Homo sapiens: one gene and its partner. The protein of the gene in region 1 interacts with the protein of each later gene in a pairwise test. Each region holds a gene or a part of one and is shown in the gene's direction. Other genes may lie near its edges.

Region 1 (3,827 bases):
AGAAAGTAGAATTGAAAAATACAAAAATTGAGCTTATTTTTAAATAATAAAGTGTTATAAAGTTTATTAAAATTTAGTTTTTAAAATGTAATTTACCTACATTTAAAATTTTTATCATTTTTTAATTGATAATAGGGATTTAGGTGAGAGTTGTTTTTTCATTCTTTCTTTCTTCTTTAAAAATAATTCATTTTGGCCAGCTTTAGTGGCTCACACCTGTAATCCCAGCACTTTGGGAGGCAGGAGGATTGCTTGCACTCAGGAGTTTAAGACCAGCCTGGGAAGCATAGACCCTACCTCTACAAAAAAATTTTTAAAATTAGACAGGCATAGTGGCACGTGCCTGTAGTCCCAGCTACTTGGGAAGCTGAGGTAGGAGGATTTCTTGAGCCCAGGAGTTGGAGGCTGCAGTTAGCCATGATTGCACTACTGCCCTCCAGCCTGGATGACAGAGTAAGACCCTATCTCAAAAACAACAACAACAAAAGAAAAATTCATTTTACTTAAAGTAAGATTTAGTATGTTTAATCTCATGAGGTTCACTTTTCTAGTCGTTTTATGCTTCAAAGGAAAAAAGTTTGTGAAACATAGTTATATATATATATTTTTAAATAGTAGTTAGAATTTAAATGTTCACTTATCAGTGTAATGGAAGAAATGCTTTTTTCTAGAAAGTGAATCTTTGGAAAATGTTCAGTATTAAATTTTTTTATGTAGTTTTAATTATATAGCTAATTCAGCCATCTGTCTTGAAGGTTCATTCCGTTGTGGCAGTTAAAATAATCACTGAAATATTATTGAATGATATTGACCACAATTTTTAAAATACAAAGTATATTAATATTACAGGTGTAGTGATGGTTTGTGTCGTTCTGCGTTACATGAAATATCGATGGACAAAAGAAGAGGAGGAAACAAGGCAGATGTATGATATGGTGGTAAAGATTATAGGTATGATATTTGTAAGAATCTCAACTATTTCTAGAAGAGTCATTGCATGATTAAACTACATTATGTCAAGTGATTGATTCATTTGTAAATTTTATTTATTTTTAGATGTTTTACGAAGTCATAATGAAGCCTGCCAGGAAAACAAAGATTTACAACCTTACATGCCTATTCCACATGTACGCGATTCCTTAATACAGCCTCATGACAGGTGTGTTCAAAGCATTATGAGTTCAAGTAAATCAGAAAATTTAAGTGCTTTCTGCAGTATTGAAAATTATATTGAGAGCTGTGACCCTTCTCAACTAGACTTGCTTACTGCACAGGTTTTTTTTGGTTTTGCTTTGTTTTTGTACTTTATACTCTCTTTCTAAATTCTCTTCCATTCTCCTGATTTTGAGTGACACCTGGATTTCTAAGTCATTCTCATTCCTAGGCATTCTTGATTCTTTGTTGTTAGTCTCCATCTTATTTCCTTTAATTTCATCTTGATAAAGAAATAGATGACAGCCAGTGGCTGGTGTTTTACTAATGTTTTTTAAGTACTAACTTTATTATTAATGAAGCTTTTAAAGTAAAAACTAAAATGCAACTTTTTGAAAATAAAAGATAATTCCATATCCTGAAGCAGCATCTTGACCCTAGCAACACATAAAGCCAGTGGAGCTTTTGGGGAAAAAAAATACAGATGTTTGTGCTCTAGCTCTGGAAATTGAAACTCAGAAAATCTGAGATGAGATATAGGCATCTAAATCTTCTTTGAACAAACTCCATGAGTAGTGGTAAGAACAGCTAGAGTTAACTATTACCTCAGATACTAATATTTCAAAAAGATGACAAGCCAAGATGATAGTAAATTTGCCATTTTGTTCACATGATAGGAAAAAAATGAAGAAAGTCTGGGATAGAGCTGTTGACTTCCTTGCTGCTAATGAGTCTAGAGTTCGCACGGAAACACGAAGAATAGGTGGTGCAGATTTTCTGGTTTGGCGGTGGATCCAGCCTTCTGCATCCTGTGACAAAATATTAGTTATACCTTCTAAAGTATGGCAAGGTCAAGGTATGTATTTTTAAACATCAAAAAAGTAATTTTCTTCTAATTTTTCAAAATGACAAATATGTGTTAAGTGAAACAGTACAATTCAAAGATGTATGAAGGCAAAACTCTCTCGTTCTGTTTCGTAGAAGGAATCAGTGTTAGCTTCTTATGTATCCTTCCACACTTTTATCTTTGCTAATGCAAACATAAATGGTTTATCTTTAATAAAGATGAATATTCCTTGAATCTTGCCTTTTTCACTTAATGAAGCAACTTAGTATTATATATATTAACTGCATTCTTTTCATCTAATTTCTTTATGTAAATAAGACACATAATTTATGTTATATATACAATAAAATATATATAAACTATATATGTATATAAGTGAAGTCATAACTTTTTAACTGCTCTTTTTTTTCCAGTTTTTGCCTGCCTCCTCTTACTAAGACCTTTCTATTTATATATTCCTCCTGCCAAGTAACTTTTGTGGGTATCTTTCCATATTTTTCTTAATGCCTACATAGTTTCAAAAACATGTATAAATAAGAAAGGGGTAAGTTTATAGGGGGTTTTGAAGATTGGCTGTCATATGTACCCAAACCTTTACTACACAGAAAAGCAGAAAACAATGCATCAGAAAATTATGACTTTTTCCCTATAAAAGTATGTCAGTATTTGCTAAACATAGTATTTGTGGAAAAGGTAAGTTGTTTTGGACATGCAATACAAAGTCCAGTCACTCCTTTTTTATTCTCCAATTAATTTTCACTTTGAAAAAGCTTGAATAAGAGGCTTCTTTAAACATGGCATAAAAGTGATGCTCTGTCAGGGTAAACAGCTAAAGCAGGCAGGGCTTAATACCTGGGTGATGGGTTTGAGTTGATAGGTGCAGCAAACCACTATGACACACGTTTACCTATGTAACAAATCTGCATGTCCTGTACATGTATCCCAGAACTTAAATTAAAAAAATGATGCTTTCATGTTGCCAATGATTATACTATTTCCTCTAAATGATGCATGCATTTCAGTTTCCCTATAAACTGAAAATAGAGAATTCCTTATTTTACTTGACCTCTTAACAGTGTTTGACAGTTCAGCCCTCCTTGAAACTTTCTTCACTGGGATTTGGGGATGCCACCTTCTTCTGTTTTTTTTCTCCTACCTCAGACTTTTTCTTCAGTCCTTTTCTAGATTATCCTCTTTTTCTTCACCTCTAGGTGTTAGAGTTTCTCAAGGCCATCTTTTTTTTCCCACTCTGCCATTTCTCCCTAGATAATCGTCTTGCTGTGACTTAATTTACCATATTGGGATAACTCCCAAATTTTTTATTTTGAATGAAGTCTGGTTTTCAGATTTTTGTACCCAACTATATATTTCTGTACTAGGAGGTGGGCACCACAGATTCAACATGTACACCAGCCTGATCCTCTTCAGTGTTCCTAGTCTAGTTAATGATACCTTTCCTGAGTTGATTCTGCCATAAACTTAGGGATAATTCTTAATCTCTCCTTTATCCCTCTTTGTCCAACCTTTCAACAGGTCATGTCATATCTACTCCATAATATGTCCTGATTCTATCCGCTTGTCACTTGCACTGTTGGCCTGTCTTACCCACATCATTATCCTCTCCTTCTTAGACAACTATAATATAATAATAACCTTCTAACTGGTCATCTTGCATTCACTTCTGCTTTTACCTGAGTCTCCACATAACAATGTATTTTTAAAATATGTAGTTTTAAAAGACAGATCTCATCCTATTCTACTCCTTAAAACAGTTGAGTGGCTATTACTCTTACCATAATGCCCAAATACTTTTTTGTAGCCTACATCA
Region 2 (3,827 bases), on another chromosome or scaffold:
GCTTGATAACTTTTGGTTCATTGCATACACTGTGAATTTAAAATTGTAGTGGCTAAGGTTGATGTTGTCTTCCTCTACAGAGAATTTGTTTTTCTTCTGGCAAGCTGTTAGAGAGCAATACCCATCACCTAGACCAAGGCTAGGATTAAGATGATTCTAGATTGGTTGTAAAGACTGATCCGTTTCATTTTTGCCCTTAGACTGGGGCATATTCCTCCAGGAGCTTCCATTGAAAGCCTAGACTATTTACCAGGGTTTCTCCTCAGCAGGCCCTCAACTCCATTTGTTGCTGTGTTGTTATTTTGGGGTTCCTCAGCGCTATGAGGCTACTAGAAGCTCTGCTTAGTTTTTAGCCTCTTAGTTACCTCTTTCTGCTCGGCTCCTAGACCTTTTGCTGCTCATAGCATAGCTATTGGCAAATCCCTGGAAAGAGTGGTGACGAATATTCAGCTCACTTCATTGCATTTCCCCTCTCTCCAGGATCTTGGCCCCCTCAAGTCCTGAGTGCCTTGGTTCCTCTTTGATGCCTTTAAAAAGCTGGGCTTTTGTTTGTTTGTTTTCTGGCTTGTTTGTTTGGAAGGAGGTTGGTCTGATACGTGCTACTCCAGTTTAGCCAGGGTTTGTACAAAGTTAACCTCCTTAACCTTTTTCACATTTTATGTTTTCATGTGCTAAAGAGTAAACAGTTTAAATGAGGCAACTTGGCTAAAGAATTTGGTACAGTATGTGTCCATGTGCTTTATTCCTTTTATGTCAATAAATAGCAACATTTTTAAAGCAGGAGATGTATTTCCTATCCTATTTGTCCTGTAGCCCATAGACACAGGCTTGTTCACTGAAGAAATACCCTAAAATATTACTACATTTATATAAGAGGAATTTTCTTTTAGCCTAAGAAATATTTGTAGAACAAACCAAAAAAACAGAGATATTAGACTATTTTTTTCTCCCTGTTGCTTTCAGTTTTTGTTGATTGAGGTGTTTTGAAATATATTTTTAGAGGTTATAAATGAATCTAAATCTAAAATATTACAATATCTTTTGAGAACTTGGGCTTTTTAACTTTGTTGCTTTTATCCCAGAGCTTTTGCTAACAGTGGCTTACTTTTTAAACTGCTTCTCAGTTTACTCATCTGTAAAGTGGCAGCAATTGTATTACCTAACTCAAAGGATTGTGAAAAGCATTAAATGCTATATATTAGTCTGCTTTGGTTGCCATAATAAAATATCATAGACTGGGTGGCTTAAATAACAGAAATAGATTTTCTCTTTGTTCTGGAGTCTGGAAAGTCCAAGATCAAGGTTCTGGACAATACAGGCTCTGGTGAGGGCTCTCTTCCTGGCTTGCAGATGATCACCTTCTTGCAGTACCCTCAGTGTGTGTGCATAGAGGCTGGAGGAGGGAGATAGCAATCTTAAGACCACCAGTCCTATCAGGTTAGGGCCCCACCCTGATGACCTTACTTAACTTTAATTACTTTCTTAGAGGCTCCATCTCCAAATATAGTCATACTGAGAGTTAGGGCTTCCGCATATGAATTTTAGGGGTCACAATTCAGTCCACAGCATACTGTATTACATAAAAGCACTTAAAATAGTACCTAGCACATGGTGATTACTTAATAAATGTGGTTGTATGGTAAAGATGATTCTAACCATTCTTTTTTTGTTTTGTAGGTGCTGACTGGGTTACTTTTTTAAACACTAGGAATGGTAATTTCTACTCTTCTGGACTTCAAACTAAGAAGTTAAAGAGACTTCTCTGTAAATAAACAAATCTCTTCTGCTGTCCTTTTGCATTTGGAGACAGCTTTATTTCACCATATCCAAGGAGTATAACTAGTGCTGTCATTATGAATGTGACAAGTTTATTTTCCTTTACAAGTCCAGCTGTGAAGAGACTTCTTGGGTGGAAACAGGGCGATGAAGAAGAAAAATGGGCAGAGAAAGCTGTTGATGCTTTGGTGAAAAAACTGAAGAAAAAGAAAGGTGCCATGGAGGAACTGGAAAAGGCCTTGAGCTGCCCAGGGCAACCGAGTAACTGTGTCACCATTCCCCGCTCTCTGGATGGCAGGCTGCAAGTCTCCCACCGGAAGGGACTGCCTCATGTCATTTACTGCCGTGTGTGGCGCTGGCCCGATCTTCAGAGCCACCATGAACTAAAACCACTGGAATGCTGTGAGTTTCCTTTTGGTTCCAAGCAGAAGGAGGTCTGCATCAATCCCTACCACTATAAGAGAGTAGAAAGCCCTGGTAAGTGAGTTATTTTATGTTGATGTGCTTTGTGTGCCCAGTACCAGATTTGTGTTGTTTAGAACATGAAAATAATCCCTTTGCTTGTTTTTAGTTGTAATTTAAAAATATTTGGGGAAACTGTGTGTGTGTGTGTGTGTGTGTGTGTGTGTGTGTGTGTGTGTCTGTGTGAATGCAAGAGAGAAAGCCCCTGAGTGTTTCATACATTTTAACAGCTTAGTCATCTCTAGTTAACATTATGTCTTGGGAGCAGGCTATGACAATTGTCATTGCAGTACTAATACCTCTAATTTTTAATAAATTGTTTTCTTTCTAAATTTATTTTTTATGTCTCACATGGTTCTCTGCATTTCTCTAGATAAAATTAGCTATGAATTGTATTCTAAGGGAAGAAAATTAGGAAAGAAATGCATTATTGCTGTCTATATGCTTAAGGGAAGTACATCATGAGGGTAGTTGCCAGTGACTTAAACCATTCTGAACTTAAGAACAGCACTTTTTATCATCTCTGGCGGAATTTTGCTGTGGCATATTTCCTATGGTGAATATGAAGGAATTATATCCTTCTATGGAATCATTTGATGCTATTACTTTATAAAATATACCCAGTTTTTACATGTATAGTCTTTTGGGAGGGTATGGTAAAGGATATATTTTAAAATTTATACGGTTTTGCCCTCAAGTTAGAATCTACATTCTAGAGAGTTGGATCATTGGAAAGTGATTAGATATTCAAGCACTTAAATGTCTCATTGTCGATTGGGACCAATTTTGTTGATGGATTGGCTGTTAATAGTTCCTGGGTTACTAAGGCTGTATATTAGAATCACATGGCTCTCCTCCCAGAAATCCTGATCCTGGGATAGCCTGGTAATCTTTGTTTCTAACAAGTACTTCAGGTGTTACTGATGTAGCTATTGGATTGGTGTTTAGGAATTACTAAACTAGATCATGTAATAACATGGTTTTCAAATAAAAGGCATTCTGTATTTTTGTGGAATATTTAAGACATATTTTAAAAAAAGATTTTAAAGACCAGTAGTATAACAAACATCTCTGTATCCCCTACTCATTTTAAGAAATAAAAGATTACGTGTAAACTGGAACCCCTGTTTTTGCTCCTCTGATTCTGCTCCCTTTGGTAACCACTGTTCTGAATCTGACGCTTATCATTCTCATGCATGTTTTTATACTGTTATTACATATGTATGAGTCCATGACAATATGTAATATTTTATATATTTAAAAATGTTACATAATATTGGAGTTTCTTTGTACAACTTATGTTCATCCAACATTACGTTTTTGTGATTTCTAGATTATATACTTTAGGATTACCTTGTTAAGTCCTATGAAAAACACTTTGGGAATTTATTGGAATTTCGTTGATTTCATTTGGGGAAGATTGGCCTACTGTGCTCTTGAGCATAATATTATTTAGTGCACTTTTAAGTTTCTCCATACAGCTCCTGCACTTACTAGATTTATTTCTAGATAACTGGTTTTTATTGTATCCTTTTAAAAGTTACATTTTGTTACAGTTGCTCTTGGTTAAGAGAGCATTGCCTTTTTTC

Evidence for each region.
Region 2: the proteins of LEMD3 (region 1) and SMAD1 interact in binary tests that used the Homo sapiens proteins (3 or more experiments, as listed by UniProt).

Annotation. Positions count from the first base shown.
Region 1 is NC_000012.12:65,239,080-65,242,906, forward strand, and holds part of LEMD3 (inner nuclear membrane protein Man1), read left to right. Parts: intron 1-849; coding exon 850-951; intron 952-1,056; coding exon 1,057-1,159; intron 1,160-1,829; coding exon 1,830-2,008; intron 2,009-3,827.
Region 2 is NC_000004.12:145,512,761-145,516,587, forward strand, and holds part of SMAD1 (mothers against decapentaplegic homolog 1), read left to right. Parts: exon of another isoform or gene 1-722; intron 723-1,677; 5' UTR 1,678-1,853; coding exon 1,854-2,253; intron 2,254-3,827. UniProt on the Homo sapiens protein: Transcriptional modulator that plays a role in various cellular processes, including embryonic development, cell differentiation, and tissue homeostasis.